Linked DNA regions of Homo sapiens. The protein of the gene in region 1 purifies or fractionates together with the protein of each later gene. This does not show direct contact. Each region holds a gene or a part of one and is shown in the gene's direction. Other genes may lie near its edges.

Region 1 (4,190 bases):
AGCTGATTTCAGGCAGGCCCATTCTGAGAATAAGGCTGCATTTCACAATTCCTGTAATGTGCCCACGTAAGAAAGAAGGCAGGTAGTCTGTTTGGTGATAGTATATTTCAAGAACTAATTGTTATTTCCTGTGAATTTGCAACCCAATGTGCTGTGAGTTGAGTTGGAACTAGAATATCAAATACCAAATAGCATACAAAAGGGATAACACTGCAAAAAAAAAATTCAAGTCAAAAATCAAAACAGAGCTCAGAGATTTCAGAAGCAATGGCTTCTTGTCAAGAATAACTGTCATTAAAATTTCCATAAGCACCAGTGAAATTGATTTTGGGGAAAAGTCTAAGGGAGGGTCTGTTTTATAAGACACACTGAAACTTTATTTTATTCTGAATTTCCCCAGCCAAGTTTGTAAGATCTCAGATTTTTCTTGGGCCCTTTCCCTGCCAAGGGGCCAAAGGTTTATCTCTATTGACACATACAGATAAAAAATTTTCATCCAGGAACCTCTATCAGCAGAGTCTGAATAGTCGTCTTTGGCTGGTGAATCACACTAAGGGAGTCTCAGTCCTGAGATGATCAGTGGTGAGAAGTTCAAAAAATAATGAAAAGAGCAAGCACTTAGGCGTCACAATACGCTTCTGGTATAACGCACCAAGCCGATGGAGCACAAGAATTGGTCTGGCGTCATTGTTTTATGTTCTCTGGATGTTGAAGAGTCTGATTTGCATTAGAAACCTCTGCATTCAATAAACAAAAATCAGGATAATAATGACCAAAGTACTATTTGGAACAGAAAACAAATTCAAGCAATGGGTGTTTTGCACTGAATTCATTCAAGATTTTATTAGTTAAGCTCTCACTTAGGTTATTAGGCTCAGCTTGCTTTTTATTTCACTGGCCTCAGTTACTGCAAACAAAAGGAGCCTGGTGTGTGTGTGTGTGTGTGTGTGTGTGTGTGTGTAAGCGCACGTGTATGAGAATGTCAGACATATCACACACAGGCTTTCTACATTCTTCACATTGGAAACCCATCAGCAAAAGGAAGAAGATCTGAAGGGAATGAGTGTTTTTTTTTTGTTTTTTGTTTTTTTCTGGTTTAGGGGATGGAGGGAGAATTTCTCTACATAAACAAGAAGGTTAGAATTGGAAGTCTGCTAAAAAAAATGTTAGAGCTGACCACAGGGTTGTAAATCCACTGACTGGAAGGAGGAAAAGAGAAACATTGCAAGCGACTGAAGTGTGTGGTGTGGCTGCAATGTTTGTGGGTTAGATGAGAAACAAGCGCTGAGTGAAACAGAGAAGGGGGGTGGCTGGTGTGATTTGTTTGGTGTTCAGAGCCAATAGAAATCCCAGACTCTGATAATATCCCCATGCAGCGCCGAGAGGATTCAGAGCTAAGTCTCCGGGCTCCTTTCACATCTGCAGGAGCAGCCAGCCTGGGACCGCGCGGCGCGGGGCGCGCTCTCGCCTCTCCTGCACCCTCAGCCGGCGCGCTTCTCTTATGGGCGTCTGCTGCAGTCTGGCTGCGGTCGAACTGAAAGCGGCGGCGGGAGACCAAACTTAGACCCCGCTGTGGACTAGAGAACTCAGAGAAGGCAGAGGGAGAGGGAGAGAGAGAGAGAGAAGGGACCCGAGGAGGAGGCTTCCATCACGTCATTGCAGGTACGCAGCTTGTCACGACTAACGTGACACAGACACGGTTTCTGATTTCTACCTTCACCAGGCACTTAGAATGAATTGACGTTGTTTGTTCCGTGGCTGGTCAGGACCGAAAGCCCTGAGTGGACGTCTCGCCGGTTTCACCCCGGGTAATTCAAGCTGTTGGCGTGTGTCTGGGGGCCACAAGGTTTATTCACCTATTGAATTATGCGTGGGTGTAACATAAGGACCTTCAAACTTGACCGTGATCGCTCTTTCTTTCTCTTTTAAATAACGTCAATACCAATATGTTGTCATCCCACCAATAAATACCTCTTGGTGACCGCCATTCTAATCATGACTATAGCGAGGCAAACACCATCCAATTGTTAGAAAGCGGGCTACGAACCTCTCCCACCTACCTACCAGGTTAATATCCTCCCTACAGGAATAGGAACCACAGCGGACTTCGGCAGAGTTTTGATTTTTTAAAGCATATGGCCAAGGTGCACCCGCCTCATGAGGGAAATATCACTATTATCACTACGCTGTGGTTGAAGGAGAAGAGAGAAGGGAGGTAGTTATTTTTTAACGTGATTGTCAGTGATCCTTCCTGTGTACCTGACTTATTTCTACATTGTCTTACGAGTTTAAAAATGCATTTGTATTCTGCACGCCAGGCACGTTCAGTTCCAGGATCTCACATATTACTACATTAAAAAGTCATGAATTGGAACTATCTAGTAGATGTGATAGTTGTAAGAAAATATTGATGTTTGATTTTATTTTATTTGATCCTAAAACTCATAAACTTCTATTTCTTTTTTTTTTTTATTTTGAGGTGTGGGTTTTGTTAAAAAAATCTATTTCCTGAGATTTTATCATGTTTGATTTGAAATTTTAAAGATAGTTATATAACTCCCCACCCCTTGATGACTTGTGATTAAATTAGCATTGCTTAATGAGTTCAGTCTTTCCTGGGAAAAGCCAGAGGGGACTGCAAGAAGTCAGTTAAAAAATTGGTCTTGCTTTGCAGTCTTCAAGGGCTGGCTGGTATTCATGTGGCTCTGAATCCCTATGAAAAGCGCTTTTTCTGCAGTGGAACAGATTGGGACTCCAGTACAGCCAGAGAATGGCTCTGCAGCAGGTGCAGGGGCAATCAAATACCTTACCTTTCGTCTAAACAGCACTCTTCCCAGTGGAGTCTTAGTCGATCATATCCAAACCATTCACTGATAATTCGCAATCGACTCACCATTCAGCCGTGCTTAGCTTTCAAGGTAGCCTTTGTCCCAAGACATGTGCCCGACCAAGGAAGATAAGAAAGTTATAAGAAAGGTATTTGTGTTGTATATCACAGTGGAGAATTTATATCGACCTTTTTTTGTTTGTTTGTTTTTTGTTTCTTATCAGATGAACATGTTCTTTCTGTCATTAAAGGAAATGCATGCTTAGCTCTACCATAGAGTCAGGAAAACTTCATAGTTTTTGCCCATCGACTGATCTGAATGATTTAACTGGGTGCTTTTTGAAATCGTGTCAAAGTATAGACATGGCAAGTGAATATTATATTTGGGAGAAGGCATTTTAACTTTATAGATAAATTTTTTTTCCTTTTACATCAGAAAGAAACTGTAAAGAACTGATCTGTGCAAATAAATATAAGTTAATCGACCCAACTACATTCTATTGGTAAAGAGTTGTTTTGTATGATTGTGAGCATTTGTCAATCTTTTATAAATAAAATAGCTGCAATAAGTTGGGACCTATTTCTGTCTTATCTTTCTAACTCTAAAGCAATGTTGGGTGTGTTGGTAGCAACTTTGTGAGTGTGAGACGGATTATATTCACTTTGTATAGACTAGGAGACACTGATGGCTTTTCAAAGATAAATATAAACAATGCTGTGATTATTCATTGTTTTTTGCTATCATTCTTCACCGAGAGAGGTAATCAACAGTTCATTCTCTATGAATCTTAGTAGAGCCAGCCAGAGCTTTACATACCCTCGAGTTATAAGTTTGGTAAAGTTTAAACAAGGTACATGCCTTTAAATCTCTTTAAAGTAAACATCTCTTTTTCTAATGCAAAGGAATGGTATTAGACTCTCAGTTCTTATTGATATGGAGAGGATTGGCCTGTCTGGGTCAAGGGCAGACACTGAGAGACTGCAGAGGCACAGGCACTCAACAGATTAGTTCAGCCACTTTTGTACTTCAGTGTTGCTACAGCAATTGCCCCTGTGCAACGTGCCAGGTTGCAGGCATGTTCTCAGTATCAGGGTCCTTCAAATATCTACGGACAAAAAAGAATTATTTCAACCAGGGAAAACGTGCCCAGCACTCGGCTTAAATGGGTCACACAAGACATTGTTTTGAAGGACAAGGTGTTCAATTAAAAATTAGACCTATGGTGCCATCTTCTTCTTGGATTAGCTGCTTCTTGATAGTTCTTTTGTTTCTAATAATATTAGGTATAATAGGCCTAATAATGTCTAGAATTAATTTTGATCACATGTCAGGCTAAAATGTGGTCCTCAGACTCAACACTGA
Region 2 (3,500 bases), on another chromosome or scaffold:
TCTGCCTCCCAAAGTGTTGGGATTACAGACATGAGCCACTGCACCAGGACCAATAAATGAATTCTTAATGAGACTTGGACCTGGAAATCTCTAATATTTTATGTCTGGTGACATATATAGACTATATTCTTGGTGCTTTTAGTTTAGAATCATTATTTTATTCTGACTCTTATACTACTAGATGGTTATTGCTATGTGATTTAGTAGATAAACTTTTAAATGACACTGCTACATAAAGAAACACTAAAACAATAAAGATAATTTAATATTTGTTGTTAAAAAAAAACTTTTTGAAATGTGTGTTGTTTACATACATAAACAGAAAGGCATATTAAATATCCCAGCATTCCTTCATACATCCTTATGGCTGGTTGCTACTGCCTGTGTTTTTATTCACACAGCTTCCTTTATATCAGTGGTCCCCAACCTTTTTGACACCAGCGACCAGTTTTGTGGAAGACAGTTTTTCTGTGGACCCAGAAGTTGGGGCAGGGTATGGTGGAGAGATGGTTTTGGGATGAAACTTTTCCATCTCAGATCATCAAGCATTAGATTCTCATAAGGAGTGCACAACTTAGATCCCTTGTATTTGCAGTTCATGATAGAGTTTGCAGTCCTTTGAGAATCTAATGCCAACGCTGATCTGACAGGAGGCAGAGCCCAGGCAGTAATGCTCCCTTAACACACTGCGCACCTCCTGCCATGCGTCTGGGTTCCTAACAGGCCAGGGACCTGTACAGGTTTGGGCCTGGGGGTTTGGGACCCCTGTTTTAGATGACAAAAATATATAAAAGTATCATACCCCATACATTTTCCTTATTCAGTCGGATATTGGAAATCATTACGCCTGGTATCAGCTATTCTGGATATTCTATTTTGATGCTTCATCAAAACTCTACAAATGTTAGTTTCTTAAAGATAGTTGCATTATTGATTCTGAAACTGCATCAGTGAATCTGTTGTTACATTAAAATTCACTGGTCTATCTTGGACTTTTTACCCAGTGGTCTGTCTTGGACTTTTTACCCAGGTGTGATTTTGTAACATTCATTGGTTATTTAGAAAATATGGTTCACTGAATTACACAGATCTCCCAAATGTTGAAACACTTCATTATGTAATATTTTAAAAATCACATTTATTAATATCACATCTAATCTCATTTAAAAAAATCTAAGTGTTGGGAATCAGTTAAGCTCACAGTGGTGGGTACTTATCTTCCAAAATTCTAATTTTTCTCTTGAAAGCTTGGTTTTTATCCTTGACAGCAAATATCGTTAAGTATTTTCCTTGAAATAACATGTAAATGTTTGGCAAATACCCAAATCTGAATAATCATAGGTTGTCTGTTTTTCTTTCAAGAATAAAATGGCATTCCATGAAAAATAAATTGATTTTTAAACTCACAACTTAAATAATTGTACAGGTCCTTTCCTTGAGATAACCATTGTGGTTTGGTACACAACAAAAATGCTTTATATGCAAATCTCATTTTGTCACACAGGATACTAGACAGATGTGTACTTGATGGGAATTTAATAAAATTAATTTTTCTGTGCCATTGGTAAAAATTATTTTTATTTTATTTTATTTTATTTTATTTTATTTTATTTTATTTTATTTTACTGCCAGTGTATGGTGGTGAGGCATACAGTGCACCTTGTACTTACTGAGCACTAATAGTACTTTTTGGTGCCATTAGTTTGGTACCAAGGTGCTAGCAGTTTTACACACCATTGCTTTTGTACCATTAGTGCAATGTTGCTATTATTAAAAGGCTAGAAAAGTGTTTATTATGTTATTTTGAAAAATAGTTGTTTTGAAAAATAACTAGTGTTGTTATTAAAAAAAAAAGTAGTTTTGACTACGTGGGACCTCTGGAAAGACCATTGGGATTTTGATTGACATGATGTTAAATTTATAATTAATTGGAGAGAGCTACACATTTACAATATTGAGTTTTCCTATATAGGAACATAGTATGTTCTTTCATTTATTCAATTATTCACTAAAATTTTATATTTTCTTATAAATATTGCGTATTTTAAGTTTATTCTGAAGTATTTTCAGCTTTTTGCCATTATAAATAGGACTTTTTTGAGGTATATTTTCTAATTGGTTATTGTAGGTATAGGAAAAGTTGATTTTTGTGTGTTTACCTTGTTTACAAATAAAAAGTTTTTCAATTGAATATATATATATATTTTTTTCCACTGAGACACAGTCTTATTCTGTCGCCCAGGCTGGAGTACAGTGGTGTCATGGCAGCTCACTGCAACCTCCACCTCCTGGGTTCAAGTGATTCTCTTGCCACAGCCTCCCAAGTAGCTGGGATTATAGGCGCACGCCACCATGACTGGCTATTTTTTCTATTTTTAGTGGAGACAGAGTTTCACTGTGTTTGCCAGGCTGGTTTTGAATTCCTGGCCTCAAGTGATCCTCTTGCCACGGCCTCCCAAAGTGCTGGGATTACAGGCTTGAGCTACTGCTCCTGGCTCTCTTGAATTTTTTTAGGTAGACAGGTCATCTTTAAATTACAATTCGTTTTTCTTAATTTGTTTGTTTGTTTCCTTATTGCACTGGTTGAGACCTCTAATTAGTGACAAATAGTAGAGATATTGGACATCTTTGTCTTGTTCTGACTTGAGTGGGAATATTTAGTATTTTCCCAGTAGGTTTAATTTTTAAGGTTTTTGATGCTTTTTAAAAAAATCTAAGGAAATTTTTTATTGCCTTATATTGCTTATATATTGAGGGTTTAAAAATAATAATGTATTTAAGTCATCAAATGTGTTTTTTCTTTTATTTTGTTAACGTGGTAGATTATATTAATATAGCTCCTATTATTTATTGAACCATCATCTTTCCATTCCTGGAATGAGATCTGTTTGGTTACAATGAAAATCTGATAGAATTTTTTGCAACTTTTCTCCTTTTAATTTGTATTTAAATATGTATTCATAGCTGTGATTGGCCTTAAGTCTTTTTTCTTCTGATTTGGATTTCAGGGTTGTGCCACTGATAAATAATTTCAGTCTCTTTCAGTGTTCTGATGTAGACTAAATTCTAAAGTAATTTTTTGCTGCTTGTACATTTGATAAAATTTACCTGTTAAATCATCTAATTCTGGTGGCATTTATTTGGGGGTAGACATGTGCACATTTTTAATTTATCTTACAGTGTTTTTATTAACTAAGGAAATCTTATGGTGGCATGGGTCATCTGTTTCGTTTTACTGTTGTAGCCTTAGCACCATGCTAGTCATATAAAAGATGCCCAGAAAATTCGTTGAATGAATCCTTATAAGGTTGAATAGTGCTTTTACTTTGCTAAAGTTTTATTTGAACTGTGTTAATATTTTTCTTCTTCTTTTTGTTTTTTCTCCTTAAAGTTCCACTCTTGTCCTGGGGACCCAGCTTTAACTTTAGCATCTGGTATGTTGAACTTAGTGGCATTGATGATCCTGATATAGTACAACCTTGTCTCAACTGGTATAGCAA
Region 3 (3,500 bases), on another chromosome or scaffold:
AGGGGATAAGCACAGTGCAGGGTAGGAAGCCTTAAGGGGCCCAAGGAGCTTGTCAAGGACTAAGACCTTGAGCTTCCCAGGGACCCCAAGAGCAGAGAAGGGGAAGGGAGGAGCAGGGAAGGTCCCGAGCTGTGTGCACTGGTTGCCTGCACCTTGCCAGGCCTACAACGGTCACTGTGAAGCCTTGAAGACGCTGGCGGAGACGCTGGTGAATCTGGACGTAAGGGACCACAAGGGCCGGACCGCACTCTTCCTGGCCACGGAGCGCGGCTCTACTGAGTGTGTGGAGGTGCTTACAGCCCACGGCGCCTCTGCCCTCATCAAGGAGCGCAAGCGCAAGTGGACACCCCTGCACGCTGCTGGTTAGTGCCCACTTTAGGCTGCTGCCCTACCCTTGCCATGCCAGATCCCTCCTGGATGGGAATGGGGCTGGAAAGTGGAGTAGGGTGAGGAGAATGGAGACTTCAAGCCCTGATTCATAGCTTCCTATCCTCAGAGATTTCTCCCTGGCCCAGGTCTTTCTGTAACATTGACCCCAAGTCCTTTAGGCTTGACCTTGCCTCCCTTCTTCCTCCTGGCCCTGCCCTGACACGGGGTCCCTTTCCCCTAGCTGCCTCTGGCCACACTGACTCCCTGCACTTGCTGATCGACAGTGGGGAACGAGCTGACATCACAGATGTCATGGATGCCTATGGACAGTGAGTGTGGGCCAGGGTGGGGTGCAGGTTTTCCAGTCCTTGCGGGATCCTCACTCCTCCTCCTGCCCTTCTGTAGGACCCCACTGATGCTGGCCATCATGAATGGCCATGTGGACTGTGTACATCTGCTGCTAGAGAAAGGATCCACAGCTGATGCTGCTGACCTCCGGGGCCGCACTGCCCTCCACCGCGGGGTGAGTGAGCTTCTAGGGGGGATTGTTTGCACATGGGCCTCAGTGTGGGAGCATGGGACTCACCAGCAGTAGGGAATCCAATTGTCTAGGAGGCAAGCCAGGATTTTGTGCCGTCTTTTTTCTTTTTCTTTTTTTTTTTTTTTTTTGAGACAGGGTCTCACTCCCATTGCCCAGGTTGGAGTGCAGTGACACTATCACAGCTCACTGCAGCCTTGACTTCCTGGGCTCAGGTGATTCTCGCACCTCAGCCTCCTAAGTAGCTGAAACTGTAGGCACATGCCATCATGCCCAGCTAATTTTTGTATTTTTTGTAGATATGGGGGTCTTACCATCTTGCCCAAGCTGGTCTTGAACTCCTGGGTTCAAGTGATCCCCCCACCTTGGCCTCCCGAAGTGCTGGGATTACAGGCATGAGCCACCAGACCCACGCTGTGCCCAGGATTTTATTGAGCTTTGTGCTTGCTCCAGGATGAGTTCCTGACGTCCCCAGCTGATTTCCCTGATATCTGTGCTTTGTTTATTATTATTATTATTATTATTATTATTATTATTATTATTATTATTATTATTATTGAGATAGAGTCTCGCTCTGTCACCCAGGCTGGAGTGCAGTGGCGTGATCTCGGCTCACTGCAACCTCCGCCTCCTGGGTTCAAGCAATTCTCCTGCCTCAGCCTCCCGAGTAGCTGGGATTACAGGCGCCTGCCACCACGCCTGGCTAATTTTTGTATTTTTAGTAGAGACAGGGTTTCACCGTGTTAGCCAGGGTAGTCTCAATCTCCTGATGATGAGATCCACCCGCCTTGGCCTCCCAAAGGGTTGGGATTACAGGCGTGAGCCACTGTGCCTGGCCAATATCTGTGCTTTGTAATCACGTACAACTGAGTGCTCACCACCCAGACTCTACCTGGGATACCCTGCTGGCCCCAACCCATCGCATAATGTCGCCACAACCTAGATCCTCTTCCGTGACCACCTGTCCTAAGCTGCCTCCTCCTCCCATAAGATTTTTTGATCCCTTAGTCTCCTTCTCTCCATTTAGTCTTTCCAGTATTAACTCCAGAGCTCCAGTATTAACTCTTAGTATCCTGATTGTCTGCTGGCATAGAGAGAGTCAAGGAGGGAGATGTGGGTCCCTAATACTTAGAATTGTTGTTGTAAAGGGCCGGGCATGGTGGCTCACGTCTGTAATCCCAGCACTTTGGAAGGCCAAGGCGGGCAGATCACCTGAAGTCAGGAGTTTGAGACCAGCCTGGCCAACATGGTGAAACTTCGCCTCTACTAAAAATACAAAAATTAATTGGGCATGGTGGTGCATGCCTATAATCCCAGCTACTTGGGAGGCTGAGACAGGAGAATTGCTGGAACCTGGGAGGCAGAGGTTGCAGTGAGCCAAGATCGCACCATTGCACTCCAGCCTGGGTGACAGAGTGAGACTCCGTCTCAAAAAAAGAAAGAATTATTGTTGTAAAGACAAGGATTGAGGCCAGTGGCTCATGCCTGTAATCCCAGCACTTTGGGAGGCCGAGGCAGGCGGATCACGAGGTGAGGAGATCAAGACCATCCTGGCTAACGTGGTGAAACCCTGTCTCTACTAAAAATACAAAAAAATTGGCCGGGCATGGTGGCACCTGCCTGTAATCCCAGCTACTTGGGAGGCTGAGGCAGGAGAATCGCTTGAACCGGGGAGGCAGAGGTTGCAGTGAGCCGAGATTATGCCACTGCACTCCAGCCTGGGCGACAGAGCAAGACTCCGACTCCAAAAAAAAAAAAAAAAAAAAAAAGACAAGGATTGGAGCCCTGGAAGTGGTTCTTACTCCTGAGCCAGACTCCAGCAACAGGCCAGTGGAAAAGGAGGAGCTTTTCATCCCCCTCACACCCCCATGTTACTCACAGGCAGTGACTGGCTGTGAGGACTGCCTGGCTGCCCTGCTGGACCACGACGCATTTGTGCTGTGCCGAGACTTTAAGGGCCGCACGCCCATTCACCTGGCCTCAGCCTGTGGCCACACTGCAGTACTGCGGACCCTGCTGCAGGCTGCCCTTTCCACAGATCCCCTGGATGCCGGGGTGGATTACAGCGGATACTCGCCCATGCACTGGGCCTCCTACACTGGTACTAGACTGGGGCCTCCACAGGCACAGGAGCATGTGTTGGAGTGTGTGTAGAGGGGGACAGGTGGGTTGTTGGGGGGGACCTGGGTTGATCTGAATCTGGAAGTGGAATGGAGTGTCAAGACACAGGACAGACAGGGAACCTTGCCGTTTTTCTCCATCACTACTCTTCCTTCCTCGTGCCCAGGACATGAAGATTGTCTGGAGTTGTTACTTGAACACAGCCCGTTTTCGTACCTGGAAGGAAACCCCTTCACTCCTTTGCACTGTGCAGTGTAAGTCCCTTCTGCTGCATCAGCCCTTCTCGCGAGGGCCCATGACTTGAGCTTAGGACAGGTAGTCTACTTCCCTTGTCCTTCCTGATGACCCCTCCTCCCTCTTCCTCTAGGATTAATAACCAAGACAGCACCACAGAGATGCTACTGGGAGCTCTGGGTGCCAAGATTGTGAACAGCCGAGATGCCAAAGGACGGTGAGTGATGGAAGACTTGGG
Region 4 (3,500 bases), about 120 Mb from region 1:
GACTAAAAACACACAGGGATGTATGTTTAGAGTAGCACCAAGTACCACTGAGTAGGTATGAAAGAGTGGAAGAAGACCACTGAAACCTTCGGGAGGAAAGCACAGCTTCTCACTTTGTCATGCATTGCCTCAGCCAGAAGGCTTTGGTCAGCCAGACTAAGGAAGGTGGGACATCCTCTATGTGGGAATTAGTGTTTAAGATCTCAAGGGACAGTATTCTAATTCCTGAGATATGTCTTAAGGCAGCATCCCAGAGGTGGGGACCTGATGCTGAAGGGGAGGAAGGGAGGCTCCTGTCACCCTTTATGACATGTTCTGCCTGACCTGCACTCTTCTGTTTTACCCCCATCTCTCCTCCTCCGCTTCTCCCTTGGCATCCCACAGCTCTAAAGTCTTTCTGGAAATTGACAACCGCCAGTGTGTTCAAGACTCAGACCACTGCTTCAAGAACACGGATGCAGCAGCAGCTCTCCTGGCCTCTCACGCCATACAGGGGACCCTGTCATACCCTCTTGTGTCTGTCGTCAGTGAGTGGCACTGGTGTAAAGGGGAAAGGTGGCGGGGGAAGAGTGTCAATTGGGGGAACAATTTTCATTATGTAGCCCTCTATTTTTTCAGGACTGTTGAGGTCAAAGTTGCCCTCTAAATGAATCTAATGCTGACATTGAGAGGTTAATGTTTTATTCAGCACTTTCCCTGTCTCTGTGGACTTTCAGGTGAATCCCTGACTCCAGAACGCACTCAGCTCCTCTATCTCCTTGCTGTTGCTGTTGTCATCATTCTGTTTATTATTCTGCTGGGGGTAATCATGGCAAAACGAAAGCGTAAGCATGGCTCTCTCTGGCTGCCTGAAGGTTTCACTCTTCGCCGAGATGCAAGCAATCACAAGCGTCGTGAGCCAGTGGGACAGGATGCTGTGGGGCTGAAGTAAGAGGCATTGCCAATAAGCCACTATTCACAGTATAAGTAGGGATGACTAGAAAAGCATATCTTGTTGAATCATGATTTTAAATTCTAAGCTCTGGGCATTTACTCACATTGACCATGATTCTAAATGCCTTGTGAGTGACTGAAACCACAGTCAGAGCGTGGGTGCATCTATTCTGTGTATATTATCACAATGCCGCCCAGCTTCTGTGTTGAGGTGCCCTTTTGTTGTAAGCTCACGATCAATGGGAAGGGAAAGGATGAATGCCAAGGGAATGTCACCAAAAATACTGCCCATCTTCTCTGGGCCAAGACCCTGCAAAATTGTAATATAGCCACGGGAGTGTGTCATGGTGGAAAGTGTTGAAAACCACTGTATTAGTTTATGACTGCCATTCTTATTTTTTCTTTTTATAATCATATTAGAAATCTCTCAGTGCAAGTCTCAGAAGCTAACCTAATTGGTACTGGAACAAGTGAACACTGGGTCGATGATGAAGGGCCCCAGCCAAAGAAAGTAAAGGTGAGGTGGCCATGGTAGAACCACCATTGTCAGCCATTATCTGGTTACATTTCAAATTTCTGTCCTTTAGCTCCAGAGTGTCCTGAATGGGAGTAAAGAGTGATAGTCTTGATGTCTTACCCAGACAATAACTATCCTAGGTTCTCCTAAACAGCAGGAATCCTTAGGACGTAAATGACCTTGGGTTACCTATATATGCTCTTCAAGAATAACTCTTTAAAAATACTAAGCACATCTGTTTCCTTTAGTGTTATGCTGGCAGTAGTCAAGTCAGGAATGGTGTGTGTAGATGGCAATTCCTTCATGGCCACATCTCTTCCTTATCCTTTATGGGCACTTCTTCTATAAGAGAAGATGAAATTAAGCAGTGGAAGAAAGCCAGTTATCATTGACATTGGCAAAATGAAAGCCAGTGATCATGGCAAAACGTTGACATTGGAGGCTCCATACCTTGAGCCCAGGAAACTAAAGCCATATAAAAGCAAGTGGTAGATTGGGCTGAGACTGACATGAAAAAGCAGACCATCCATCCACAGCTGTGCATGGCTGGGAGCTGGTGGAGCATGATGGTTAAGAAGATTGCTTTAGTTAATATCAGAACTGGATTCAAATCCAAAACTCTGCCGCTTAGTAGCTGGCAAGTTACTTAACCTCTTTGTAATTATCCTTCCTTGTAAAATGCGGATAATAATAACCCTTTCCTCTGTGAGTTGTTGTGTTGGCATATGTGCCTTATCTACTTTCCTGTCATGTACTAGGTATTCAGTAAAGGGTAGCTGCTTTTAAATTATCATGATTATTATTATTGAATAGTCTTTCCTGAGTGCTTACTACATGTTGGGTGCTATGTTGAGTACAAGGAAACAACCTTGAACAAGGCTTATTTTCCCTTCTTGAGAAGCTTACAGCCTTGTGGTGGAGATGGCCATGTAGTGCTGTGTAAGCATTTAACACATGATCAGTTAAGCAGAGGTAAGCAGAGTATGCTTTTTAGGGCCAACAAGAAGAATTAAAGTTTACTTTCTAGTGGAGGGTAGGAAAAGTGAGAATTGGGTGCTCTGGAGATCTAAAGGCTAAAGCCTAGAGTTTGGGATTGGGGGAGGGAGTTGTCTAGATGATGCAGGAAAGGTAAGCAGGAGCCACATCACGAGAGCAGTGGGAAGCCAAGGCTGAGGTAATCCTCTGGAGGGGTGGAGGAGTAGGAAGAGAGAAAACAATGGGAGATAAGCAGCGGTGGTGGAGGCTCTGGACACCTTCTGATTAGCAGTTTCTGGTGGTGGCCAGATTGATAGGGAGCATTGTTTTCACCTTTCAGGCTGAAGATGAGGCCTTACTCTCAGAAGAAGATGACCCCATTGATCGACGGCCATGGACACAGCAGCACCTTGAAGCTGCAGACATCCGTAGGACACCATCGCTGGCTCTCACCCCTCCTCAGGCAGAGCAGGAGGTGGATGTGTTAGATGTGAATGTCCGTGGCCCAGGTCAGCACCGGGCCTCTTCCCCTCTTCACTGGGCTGTGTCTGCCCATGGTTCCACATTGTTGTCCCTGTGTTTGCCCTGTCCAGTCATAAACCCCTTCCCAATTTCACAGACTCTAAATCAGCTCGAGGAAATGAATGCTTAAGGAATGTAGCCACAAAGAAATTATCAGCTCAGAAAGGGAAGGATTTCACATTGCTTCATGTACAGTGTGTTGAGACTAAACAGGCTGATAAAATGGGTTAGATTGTAGTGGGATAGAAAAATAATATCCCAAAGCAGAGGATAGTTAGTATCTTATGCATGTATTAATTGTTCTATTAATATTAGATATTTTTAAATGTCCAATTAAAATAACAGCACTTAAACTTGAACAGAAAAACGTGTTTAGAGAAGAGCCCCCAGCTTAAAAAGACTTGTACTTTCCCATTATTCTTTACAGAAATGATACTATCAGAGGAAAAGGTGGCAAATGTGAAACTAATAACCAGTTACTACAAGAAGTACAGGGAATTCTTTGCCCCTAAGAATAACTTTAGTCAAATAGAGCTGTTTCAACCATAGGGTT
Region 5 (3,500 bases), on another chromosome or scaffold:
ATCTGGGCTGCTGTAATAAAATACCTTAGACTGGAAGCCAGGCACATTGCTCATGCCTCTAACCTCAGCATTTAGGAGGCTGAGATGGGAGGATTGCTTGAGCCCAGGAGTTCGAGACCAGCCTGGGCAACATAGTGAGACCTCATCTTTACAAAAAAATTTAATTTTAATTTGTTTTTCACCCGTGACACAGCCCTCAGGAGGTCCTGAGAACATATGTCTCTCGTCTTTGCAAAAAATTGTTTTAATTAGCCGGGCGTGGTGGCACACATCCCTAGTCCCAGCTACTCAGGAGGCTGAGGTGAGAGGATAACTTGAGCCCAGGAGTTTGACGCTATAGTGATCCAAGATTGCACCACTACGCTTCAGCCTGGGTGACAGAGCAAGACCCTGTCTCAAAAAAACAAAACAGACTGGGCCATTGATAAACAACAGAGATGAGCTGCTCATAGTTGTAGAGGGTGGGAAGTCCCATATCACGGTGCTAGCAGATTCCGTGTCTAGTGAGGGCCCATCTCTCATAGATAGCACCTTTTAGGTATCTGCACAGGGTGGCAAGGACAAACAAGCTCCCCCTCTTTTATACGGGCACAGTTCGTATTCATGAGGACAGAGCCCTCCTGACTGAATCAACTCCCGAAGGCCCCACTTTTTTTTTTTTTTTTTTTTTTGGTGAGACGGAGATTTACTCTTGTTGCCCAGGCTGGAGTGCAGTGGTGCGATCTTGACTCACCGCATCCTCCGCCTCCCAGGTTCAAGCGATTCTCCTGCCTCAGCCTCCCAAGTAGCTGGGATTACAGGCATGTGTCAGCATGCCAGGCTAATTTTGTATTTTTAGTAGAGACGGGGTTTCACTGTGTTGCCCAGGCTGATCTCGAACTCCTGATCTCAGGTAATCCGCCTGTCTCTGCCTCCCAAAGTGCTGGGATTACAGGCGTGAGCCACTGCACCCAGCCCTTTTTAAATTTTTGATCAACAACTTCTTTTTTATTTTGAGATGGAGTCTTGCTCTGTTGCCCAGCCTAGAGTGCAGTGGCGTGATCTTGGCTCGCTGCAACTTCCACCTCCTAGGTTCAAGCAATTCTGCCTCAGCCTACCTAATAGCTGGGATTACAGGCGTGCACCACTGCGCCCAGCTAATTTTTGTATTTTTAGTAGAGATGGGGTTTCACCATATTGGCCAGGCTAGTCTCCAACTCCTGACCTCAGGTGATCCGCCCACCTCGGCCTCCCAAAGTGCTGAGATTACAGGCGTGAACCACCATACCTGGCTGAAAGGCCTAACTTTTTTTTTTTTTTTAGACGGAGTCTTGCTCTGTCACCAGGCTGGAGTGCATTGGCCCGATCTCGGCTCACCGCAACCTTCGCCTCCTGAGTTCAAGCGATTCTCCTGCCTCAGCCTCCCGAGTAGCTGGGATTACAGGCACGTACCACTGTGCCTGGCTAATTTTTTGTATTTTTAGTAGAGATGGGGTTTCACCATGTTAGCCAGGATGGTCTCTATCTCCTGACCTCGTGACCTCGTGATCCGCCCTCCTCAGCCTCCCAAAGTGCTGGGGTTACAGGCGTGAGTCACCGTGCCCAGCCAGCCCCACTTCTTAATACCACTACATTGGAGATAGGCTTTAGCATGTGAATTTTGGGAAGAGGCAAACATTCAGACCATAGCATCTGTCGACGGCCATGTCACAGCTTCCCTGGAAAGACATCAGGAAAGGACTGTGCCTTTGACAGTCTCTCACAGGCCCATGCTGGCTGGGGAATTCCTCAGCTCTCTTCCCTAAGAGCTGACAGTTACTACTCCCAGGAATCATCCTGCCAGCCCCCTTCCTGCAGATGGCAGGATCCACCGGCAGTGTGAGCAATTCGTCAGGTAACACTGCGGTCTCAATAGGCCCCTGACTGCTGGCTACCCACCTTGGCAGCTGTCAAAGGAGGTCGTCTGTCTGCCCAGCCACAGATAATGCTTCTGAGCCCTATTCCTGTTTGAGCCACGTTAATGTGGAACAAAACAGGGAGTTAGGTTAGGAGGAATGGAAGTAATTCTTTGTTCATTTTTTCCACGAAGGACTGTGAGCACCCACTGTGTACCTGGCCAGGTCCTAGGGGTAGAGGACACAACAGGGATCTACACAGGCAAACTCCCTGCCCCAGGGAAACTGACATGAAGCCCCAAAAAATGCCCAGTTTGGCAGGGGTGGTGGCTCGCACCTGTAGTCCGAGCACTTTGGGAGGCCAAGGCAGGAGGACCACTTGAGCCCAGGAGTTTGAGACCAGCCTGGGCAACATTAGGGAGACCTCGTCTCTATTACTAAAAAATGCACAAATAAATAATTTTTTTTTAGAAAAAGAAAAATGGCCAGCTTGCTAAATAAATCATAGGAACTCCCAAGAAGGATAAGTCAAGCAGGGAGAATCAAGCCAGGGAGTTAGTGTCGGGAAGGGCTTTGTTGGTCAGACGCAGTGGCTCATGCCTATAATCGCAGGGTTTTGTGAGGCTGTGGCAGGAGGAACACTCAGCTGGGAGTTGGAGACCAGCCCAGGCAATATAGTGAGATCACGTCTCTACCAAAAAAAAAAAAAAAAAAAAGCATACATATACATATACTTTTTTTTTTTTTTTTTTTTTTTTTTTTTCGGTTAACTGGATGGGCCGGGTGCCGTGGCTCACGCCTGTAATCCCAGCACTTTGGGAGGTGGGCGGATCACTTGAGGTCAGGAGTTCAAGACCAGCCTGGCCAACATGGTGAAACCCCATCTCTACTAAAAATAGAAAAATTAGCCAGGCATGGTGGTGGTTACCTTTAATCCCAGCTACTCAGGAGGCTGAGACAGGAGAATCGCTTGAACGATTCTTGCAGTGAGCCGAGATCCCACCACTGCACTCCAGCCTGGGCGACAGAGCGAGACTCTGCCTCAAAAAAAAAAAGAAAAAAAAAAATTAGCTGGATGTAGCTCCTGTGGTCCCAGCTATTTGGGAAGCTGAGGTGGGAGGATTGCTTGAGCCCAGGAGTTTGAGGCTGAAGTGAGCTATGATGGTGCCACTGTACTCCAGCCTGGGTGACAGAGCAAGGCCCTGTCTCCAAAAGCAAAAGAGTAGAGAAAGGGCTTTATGTGACCAGGGAGAGTATGAAGAGCTATGGCTGTCCCATTCCCATTCTAGTAGGTCCGAGAGCAAGCAGGGCCAGACTGCCAGGGGCCCCAATAAAGCATTGTAGGGGCCCAGGCAGTGTCACTTGGGGCCAAGGTAGTACAAAGTGGTTTTGAAGGAGTTGAAGATGAATCCAAGGATCTGAATGAGGAGGGCCAGAGCTGGTGAAGCTACGGCATTCACAGGTTTTGGGAAGGACTGGAGCCAGGTCCTGAAATTGTTGAGTGGAGGTGTCTGGGGTGTGTGCGAGTCTGGCATTCACAGGGAAGTCCGGGCCAAAGACTCCAGTGGGGGAGGCATCAGTGAATAGATGGTGCTTCAGGCCTGTCTTAGTCAGCTCAAGCTGCCA
Region 6 (3,500 bases), on another chromosome or scaffold:
AACTCCTGGGTTCAAGGAATCCTCCTGCCTCGGCCTCCCAAAGTGCGGGGATTATAGGCATGAGCCACCACACCCGGCAATTTCTACTTTTTTAATAGTAAATCCTAATGGGTAGGATATGGTACCTTATTGTGGTTCTGCATTTTGCTAATGATTAGTGACATTATGACAAATAGTACCTTTACAAGCACTTATTGGCCATTTGCATATCTTTTGTTTGTTGGTTTGTTTGTTTTGTTTTGAGAGGGAGTCTCGCTCTGTGGCACAGGCTGGAGTGCAGTGGCAAGATTTTGGCTCACTGCAACCTCTGCCTCCCAGGTTCAAGCGATTCTTCCACCTCGGCCTCCTGAGTAGCTGGGACTATAGGCATACGCCACCACGCCCGGCTAATTTTTGTATTTTTAGTAGAGATGGGGTTTCACCTTGTTGGTCAGGCTGGTCTCAAACTCCTGACCTTAGGTGATCCGCCTGCCTCGGCCTCCCAAAGTGCTGGGATTACAGGCTTCAGCAACCGCGCCTGGCCATATCCTATAATTTTGCTGAATTTATTTATTAATCCTAGTTGGGGTTTTGTGTGTGTGTGTGTATCTTTAGGATTTTCTACTTATAAAATCATGTCTGTGAACAGAGATAATTTTACTTTATCCTTTCCAGTGTGGTTTCCTTTCTTTTTCATGCTTAGTTGCTCTGGCTGGGATTTCCAGGACTGTGCTGAGCAGAAGTAGAGAAAGTGGCACACTTGTCTTGTTCTTGGTCTGAGGGAGGGAGGGATTATAGTCTGTTACCACTGAGTGTGATGTTAGATGGAGGCTTTTCATATATGGTCTTTATTATGTTGAACTGCCTTCATTCTCTGCATCTTCAGCACTAACTCACCTGTGTCTTTCTAATCCCATTATTAATGGAGAGATTCACTCCTGTAAACCAGCACTTTGGGAGGCTGAAGCGGGAGGATCACTTGAAGCCAAGAGTTCATGACCAGCCTGGGCAACCCATCTCTACAAAAAAAACAAAATTTAATTAGCGGGGCATGGTGACACATACCTGTAGTCCCAGCTACTCTGAGGTCAGGAGTTCAAGACCAGCCTGGCCAACATGGCGAAACCCCATCTCTCCTAAAAATACAAAAATTAGCAGGGCGTGGTATCACATACCTGTAGGAGGATCACATGAGCCCAGGAGTTCCAGGTTACAGTGAGCTGTGATTGTGCCACTGCATTCCAGCCTTGACGCTATATGTGCCCAAAAGTTATGCTCTCTCCTTCTTTCTCTGTCTTAGCTGCTACATCTTCCCCTTCATCTCCCTCCAGCACAGGCTCTTCCCCATCTCTGAAATAGTCTCACCAGGGTCTCTGTCTGCCCCCATCTCAATCCGGCCGGCACATTTCCATCTCCTTTGCATTGATACCTTAGCTCTGATGGGGCCATTGCCAGCCCCTCACCAGACACAGTCTTCGCTGGCCTTCTGTAGCAGCAGGATCATCGCTGCCTAGGTTTGCGCCTAGGCCCTCCCCTAACCTCTTGCTTACATCTTCTCCTCAGTTCCTTGGGCTTTAGGGCACATCAGAGAGCTGGTGTGAAGCCCAGGTGCTGTGACCGCACTCCAAGACACACGGGTGCTGTGGGTCTGGGCTGGGGCCTGAGGCCTCATTCTTGCCTGGGCTCCTTTGTGAGACCCTGACATAGACTTTGTGGAAACCACATTGTGGGGAGCAGGGCCCTCAGCAGGTTTTGTCTGTTTCCTGTGACCTCTGTTCCACCAGTCACACTGCCCCCTGCTTTCCCACCACCTTCTCCTTTGCACTCCAGATCAAATTTCTGCCTGTCTGCTTACCATCGCCAGCTCTCTTGGGCCCTTCACACACCTTGTACTCCACTTTTCCACACAGACTTCCAGTCACAGCACCCTCTTGCCTAAAACTTGCTTACAGGCTGAGGCAGGCAGATCACCTGAGGTCAGGAGTTCAAGACCAGCCTGGCCAACATGGCGAAACCCCATCTCTACTAAAAATACAAAAATTAGCCGAGCGCGGTATCACATACCTGTAGTCCCAGCTACTCGGGAGGCTGAGGCAAGACAATCCCTTGAACTTGGGAGGCGGAGGTTTCCAGTGAGCCAAGAGGGCGTCACTGCACTCCAGCCTGGGTGACTCCATCTCAAAAAAAAAAAAAACTTGCTTACAAATATGCTGACCAGAGTTCTGGCCTGGGTCACAGTAATGCGCCCTCCAGGCTGAGTGCGTCCCTCTTGCCTGCTGAGGACTTGATTGCCCTGCTTGAGCTACTGCTCATGCTTCCTGAAATCCAGGTCTCAGTTGTGCTGTCGTAGGCCTGGGGAGGCCTTTCCTGATCCCCAGGCCAGGACATGCCCCCAAGACCCCACTGGTGCGCAACCCAGCAGCACCCCGTGTGCCTCCTGCAGGAGAAGATGCTGGACATCTACTGGCTGCTGCGCGTCTGCCTGCGGACCATTGAGCACGGTGATCGCACAGGGTCTCTCTTTGCCTTCATGCCCGAGTTCTACCTGAGCGTGGCCATCAACAGCTACAGTGCTCTCAAGAATTACTTTGGTCCCGTGCACAGCATGGAGGAGCTCCCAGGTGATGGAACCATTCAGGCTGAGGCAGAAGCAGAAAAGGGGTCTCTAGTGTGAGCCCTAGGAGCCCTGGTCTGAGACCTCTGTGGCCCAGCAACACACTTCTGTGGGGGGCGGGGAGGGGAGGAGCTTCCTCTGTGGTTCACCCTGCAGCAAACAAACGTCTGCACCCTGCCCTGGGACCTGCAGCCACAGAGCCAACAGCTCCCTAGCAAAGGAAAACAGACAAGATGGAACACGGTGGGTGTAGACCTCTTGGCTTTCACTTCCTTCCTAGTGCTATGAGCAACTGCCATGGTCCAGGAGCCAGCTGGCCTTGCACCTTGACTCCCTGGCACTGGTCACAAAGCGTAGCAGTTGGTCAGGGGCAGAATGGTTTGTCTTGGTAAATCACAGCAGGGGGTGGACCCTGCTAGGGTCCACATCCGAACCTGGGCCTCTCAGCCTGCTGATTCCAGGCTGGGCGTGGCAGTGTATGTCTGGATCAGGCAGTGAGCTGTCAGGCCCCTAGCCTGCCCCCTGCCCAGCCACAGGCCTCAGTGCAGGCTTTGTCTTCAAAGACAGAGCTGTGAGTGCCCAAGGAGCTTTGACTGCTCATCAGGTGTGTGTGCTGAGATGGGTTTGAGCCCAGGTCAGGGCTCCTGCCAGGGCCTGTCATCCCTTCACAGTGAGCCTGTGCCTTAGCCCTTGCACAGCCACCAATGAATGCTTTGCCCGATGTCCCCAGATGCCACCCTGGGTCCAGGCTGGCCTTGGGAGCCAGCTCTAGAGCCTGCTACCCAAGTCCACCCACCCTGCTGACATGCCTGCCTCTGGAGCCCCCACTCCCAGCCGACACGTCTCACTTCCCACCCTTGCAGGCTATGAAGAGACCCTGACCCGCCTGGCTGCCATTCTCGCCAAA
Region 7 (3,500 bases), on another chromosome or scaffold:
AGCTGTCCTGTACGCCCGCCACGTGCTTGCATCCCTGCTCGCCGAGTGGCCTAGCCACGTGCCAGTGAGCGAGGACATCCTGGAGCTCAGTGGCCCTGCCCATATGACCTACATTTTGGATATGTTCATGCAGCTGGAAGAAAAGCATGAGTGGGAGAAGGTAGTTATGCAGACTGAGCTTGTGCTCACCCACCAGGTTCTTCCTCTGCCCCACAGGCTTCCTCCAGTGAGTGCTTCCTGGAGCGAGGCTACCTGTGTGGCTGTGCAGCTCCCTGACAGGTGTGAATGCAGCAAAGGTAGGGTCACTGTATCCTCTCCCAAGGATTGGGCTAGTGAGGAACTCAGGGGCCCTGAGCGCGATTTCCAGCTGAACCAGAAAGCTTTGTCGCCATCTTCCCAGTTTCCAAGTGCAGAAATCTTGAGGCACATTCGGTAGCTCCTTTTTGATCCTGTCCCTCACCCACCTTCACACACACACACGCAGTCCATGAGGAAGTTCATTTGGCCTCTCAGCCTTGCTTTGTCCATCTGAGAACACCACCAGACCTCGAGGTCTTTTCCCGGCCTTGCAGCCCTGCAGGTGCTGGCAGGCTTGCTCTAGCATATCTATCTTTCGGAAGGGACAGAGGGAGCCACCCTGCCTCTACTAGGCCCTTGCATAGGCGTGTCCTCCCACAGTTCTTGCCACCTAGAGCTCCCAACCCTGCACCTCACTCCAGGCATCGATTACATTGTGTGGTCATTATTTATCCATAGGCCAATCCACCTGCTTGGCTGGGGACTCCTTCAAGGACCAGGACCCTTTATGATTGGTTCAGTTAGTTCTTTCAGACCACCTCTAAGTAGCATCATTCTGAAAGGACTGCAGTGTCCTGATTGACACCAAGAGCCTGGTCAAGTGAGAGGTGGCTGGTGGAGTTGGTTTTGGGTGGTGGAGTCACAGAGGCTCGTCCTAGGTCTAAGATGATGCCAGCACCTTTGGGTGGAGCTTGGGTTGAAGTAAACTGTCCCTTCTTCCTGATGCCACTTGCAGGCCCTGACCTTATCTGTCTGCTTCCCACCAGATCCTGCAGAAAGTGCTCCAGGGCTGCCGAGAGGACATGCTGGGGACCATGGCCCTGGCTGCATGCCAGTTCATGGAGGAGCCAGGAATGGAGGTGCAAGTGAGGGAGTCGAAACACCCGTATAACAACAACACCAACTTCGAGGTAAGCCTGGGGCCGGCAGGCCCCATAAGAGCGACTGAGCCGCAGAGACCTCGTCAGCCCCTCCGTGCTCAGCCCCTCCATGCTCAGCCCCTCTGTGGCTCTCTCCCGCTGGACAGCAGAGACCTGTCCAGGAAAGTGCTTCCTTGAACAAACTGCAGTCTGCCTCCCTGAGGCCAGGGATTCTGTACAAGCAAGTCTTCTCTTCTCCGGACTTTTCTTGTTTTAATAGAAGAAAATGGGCCACCTAGCCCTGGAGGAGAGCTTTACTTTCCCTGCGGCAGGCTCCTCAGAGTGAGTCCTTGGCTTCACAGTGAGACAGTGAGTCTGAATGTGGTCCAGGTTGGACCCTCACTCTTCAGCTGCCACCTCATGACCTGCCCCCACCGTGGATACTACAGCCCCTTTTTAAAATTTCCCAGAACTGAATCAGAGTCTCATCTTTTCCATCCTTAACTTTGTGCCTGGGCAGGGAGGTAGGCATTTTGATGAGGCAGGAATGGGGCAGCCTCCGTTATTCTCATTGACTTAAGGCCATGTAGTCCCTTTAGCACTTTTTTTTGAGACGGAGTCTCACTCTGTCGCCCAGGCTGCAGTGCAGTGGTGTGATCTCGGCTCACTGCAACCTCCACCTCCCGAATTCAAGTGATTCTCATGCCTCAGCCTCCCTAGTAGCAGGAATAAAGGCACCTGCCACCATGCCCAGCTAATTTTTGTATTTTTAGTAGAGACGGGGTTTCACCATATTGGCCAGGCTGGTCTCTAACTCCTGACCTCAGGTGATCCACCCGCCTTGGCCTCCCAGAGTGCTGGGATTACAGGCGTGAGCCACCTCACCTGGCCCCCATTAGCGCTTTTAAAAATGTTGGAGAGAAAACTGAAATGTTGGAGTTGCCCAGGCATCTACTTCTGAGTGGAAGGCACCTGCAGCAGCGAAGGTGGATGATGAAAACCGATTTAGAACTGGGTTATTGGCCAGCTGAGATTTTGTTTTTCAGAAGTATAACCTGTCTTTCTTCCAAGTCTCTTCTCTTGTCATGTTCCTGGGCTCCAGCCCCACTCCCTTGGTCCCATACAGGCACATGTGGTCAGCCACCAGGTTCGATCCCAAAGAGGTCTTGTCTTCTCCACTGACCCTGGACACCCGTTGCCCTTCTCTGGGGTTCCTTTTGCTGCTACTTTCTGATTTCCTCACTTTTGCCTCAGCCCAGCCTTGCTCCACACCAGCTGTCAGTGATGCTACACTGTGCAAGCCTCACCAAAGCTTTCCAGGGTTTTCCCTGTTGTCCAGAGTCTGAGTGCCTCATTTTCATGCCCAGGGCCTTCAGTGTCTGCCCCTGCCAGTCTCTCTGGAGTCAGGTCTTGTCCCTGTTCCTGCTTCCCAAGCATACGTGCCCATGTAGCACACCCTTTACTCCAAACACGCCAAGCTCCTTGCCATTCCCTGAACATGCTAGACCTTCACAGGGCTGTTACCCTGTCTGAAATGCACCCCATGCACTCAGGTCCACCTTGTCTCCCACTCCCGCCTTCTCCTAACAGGGTCCTCCTGTCCTCTTCACTCTTCACAGCAGCCTGACACTCTTTCTCTGGGGCCCCGTGTTGCCTGCCCCGCTGTGCCTCCCTCGCACCATATTTGCAGTCTGTGCATGCTCCTCGCCCTAGCTGGACTCTGCACTCCTGGAGGCCAGGGCTGTGGTTCACTCATTCTCACACACCCGGGTCCAGCCACAGGACTCGGCATGGGACAGCTGCAGTCAGTGTCTAGTGAGCAGCATCGACAGATGTGTTCTCCATTTCCCCTCCCTAGGATAAAGTTCACATTCCTGGTGCCATCTACCTCTCAATCAAATTCGACTCTCAGTGCAACACAGAGGAGGGCTGTGACGAGTTAGCCATGTCCAGCAGCAGTGACTTCCAGCAAGACCGACACAGCTTCAGCGGGTCTCAGCAGAAGTGGAAAGATTTTGAACTTCCAGGTAGTGAAACAAATACTCGATTAGATAGGTTCTTCACAGGCAGTGTTTAAACTTAATATTGAGAAGGGAACTTACTGGAGAATGTTGAAACCCAACACCACTGCTGCCATTCCCTGTTGCTTCAGTTCCTGATGGGCCTCTGATCCTTGTGTGCCTAGGAGACACTCTGTATTACCGCTTCACCTCCGACATGAGCAACACCGAGTGGGGCTACAGATTCACCGTGACGGCCGGACACCTGGGGCGGTTCCAGACAGGTGTGTGCTCTGGGCTTTGCGTTCACACCATCTGCCTGCCAGGGACACTCCATGGCTGT

Evidence for each region.
Region 2: the proteins of GREM2 (region 1) and MKLN1 purify together in Homo sapiens (affinity purification with mass spectrometry; one large-scale study listed by BioGRID and IntAct). This does not show direct contact.
Region 3: the proteins of GREM2 (region 1) and ANKRD52 purify together in Homo sapiens (affinity purification with mass spectrometry; one large-scale study listed by BioGRID and IntAct). This does not show direct contact.
Region 4: the proteins of GREM2 (region 1) and NOTCH2 purify together in Homo sapiens (affinity purification with mass spectrometry; one large-scale study listed by BioGRID and IntAct). This does not show direct contact.
Region 5: the proteins of GREM2 (region 1) and NACC1 purify together in Homo sapiens (affinity purification with mass spectrometry; one large-scale study listed by BioGRID and IntAct). This does not show direct contact.
Region 6: the proteins of GREM2 (region 1) and RNF123 purify together in Homo sapiens (affinity purification with mass spectrometry; one large-scale study listed by BioGRID and IntAct). This does not show direct contact.
Region 7: the proteins of GREM2 (region 1) and ZZEF1 purify together in Homo sapiens (co-immunoprecipitation; 2 studies listed by BioGRID and IntAct, with this or other methods). This does not show direct contact.

Annotation. Positions count from the first base shown.
Region 1 is NC_000001.11:240,609,356-240,613,545, reverse strand, and holds the start of GREM2 (gremlin-2 precursor), read left to right. Parts: upstream 1-1,390; 5' UTR 1,391-1,662; intron 1,663-4,190. UniProt on the Homo sapiens protein: Cytokine that inhibits the activity of BMP2 and BMP4 in a dose-dependent manner, and thereby modulates signaling by BMP family members. Contributes to the regulation of embryonic morphogenesis via BMP family members.
Region 2 is NC_000007.14:131,393,876-131,397,375, forward strand, and holds part of MKLN1 (muskelin), read left to right. Parts: intron 1-3,391; coding exon 3,392-3,500. UniProt on the Homo sapiens protein: Component of the CTLH E3 ubiquitin-protein ligase complex that selectively accepts ubiquitin from UBE2H and mediates ubiquitination and subsequent proteasomal degradation of the transcription factor HBP1.
Region 3 is NC_000012.12:56,244,885-56,248,384, reverse strand, and holds part of ANKRD52 (serine/threonine-protein phosphatase 6 regulatory ankyrin repeat subunit C), read left to right. Parts: intron 1-160; coding exon 161-362; intron 363-610; coding exon 611-698; intron 699-774; coding exon 775-892; intron 893-2,788; coding exon 2,789-3,008; intron 3,009-3,194; coding exon 3,195-3,282; intron 3,283-3,395; coding exon 3,396-3,479; intron 3,480-3,500. UniProt on the Homo sapiens protein: Putative regulatory subunit of protein phosphatase 6 (PP6) that may be involved in the recognition of phosphoprotein substrates.
Region 4 is NC_000001.11:119,919,663-119,923,162, reverse strand, and holds part of NOTCH2 (neurogenic locus notch homolog protein 2 isoform 1 preproprotein), read left to right. Parts: intron 1-384; coding exon 385-527; intron 528-716; coding exon 717-927; intron 928-1,353; coding exon 1,354-1,450; intron 1,451-2,765; coding exon 2,766-2,934; intron 2,935-3,500. UniProt on the Homo sapiens protein: Functions as a receptor for membrane-bound ligands Jagged-1 (JAG1), Jagged-2 (JAG2) and Delta-1 (DLL1) to regulate cell-fate determination.
Region 5 is NC_000019.10:13,124,764-13,128,263, forward strand, and holds part of NACC1 (nucleus accumbens-associated protein 1), read left to right. Parts: intron 1-3,500. UniProt on the Homo sapiens protein: Functions as a transcriptional repressor. Seems to function as a transcriptional corepressor in neuronal cells through recruitment of HDAC3 and HDAC4. Contributes to tumor progression, and tumor cell proliferation and survival.
Region 6 is NC_000003.12:49,710,057-49,713,556, forward strand, and holds part of RNF123 (E3 ubiquitin-protein ligase RNF123), read left to right. Parts: intron 1-2,422; coding exon 2,423-2,600; exon of another isoform or gene 2,601-2,836; intron 2,837-3,456; coding exon 3,457-3,500. UniProt on the Homo sapiens protein: Catalytic subunit of the KPC complex that acts as E3 ubiquitin-protein ligase. Promotes the ubiquitination and proteasome-mediated degradation of CDKN1B which is the cyclin-dependent kinase inhibitor at the G0-G1 transition of the cell cycle.
Region 7 is NC_000017.11:4,014,031-4,017,530, reverse strand, and holds part of ZZEF1 (zinc finger ZZ-type and EF-hand domain-containing protein 1), read left to right. Parts: coding exon 1-160; intron 161-756; exon of another isoform or gene 757-898; intron 899-1,064; coding exon 1,065-1,208; intron 1,209-3,015; coding exon 3,016-3,184; intron 3,185-3,342; coding exon 3,343-3,441; intron 3,442-3,500. UniProt on the Homo sapiens protein: Histone H3 reader which may act as a transcriptional coactivator for KLF6 and KLF9 transcription factors.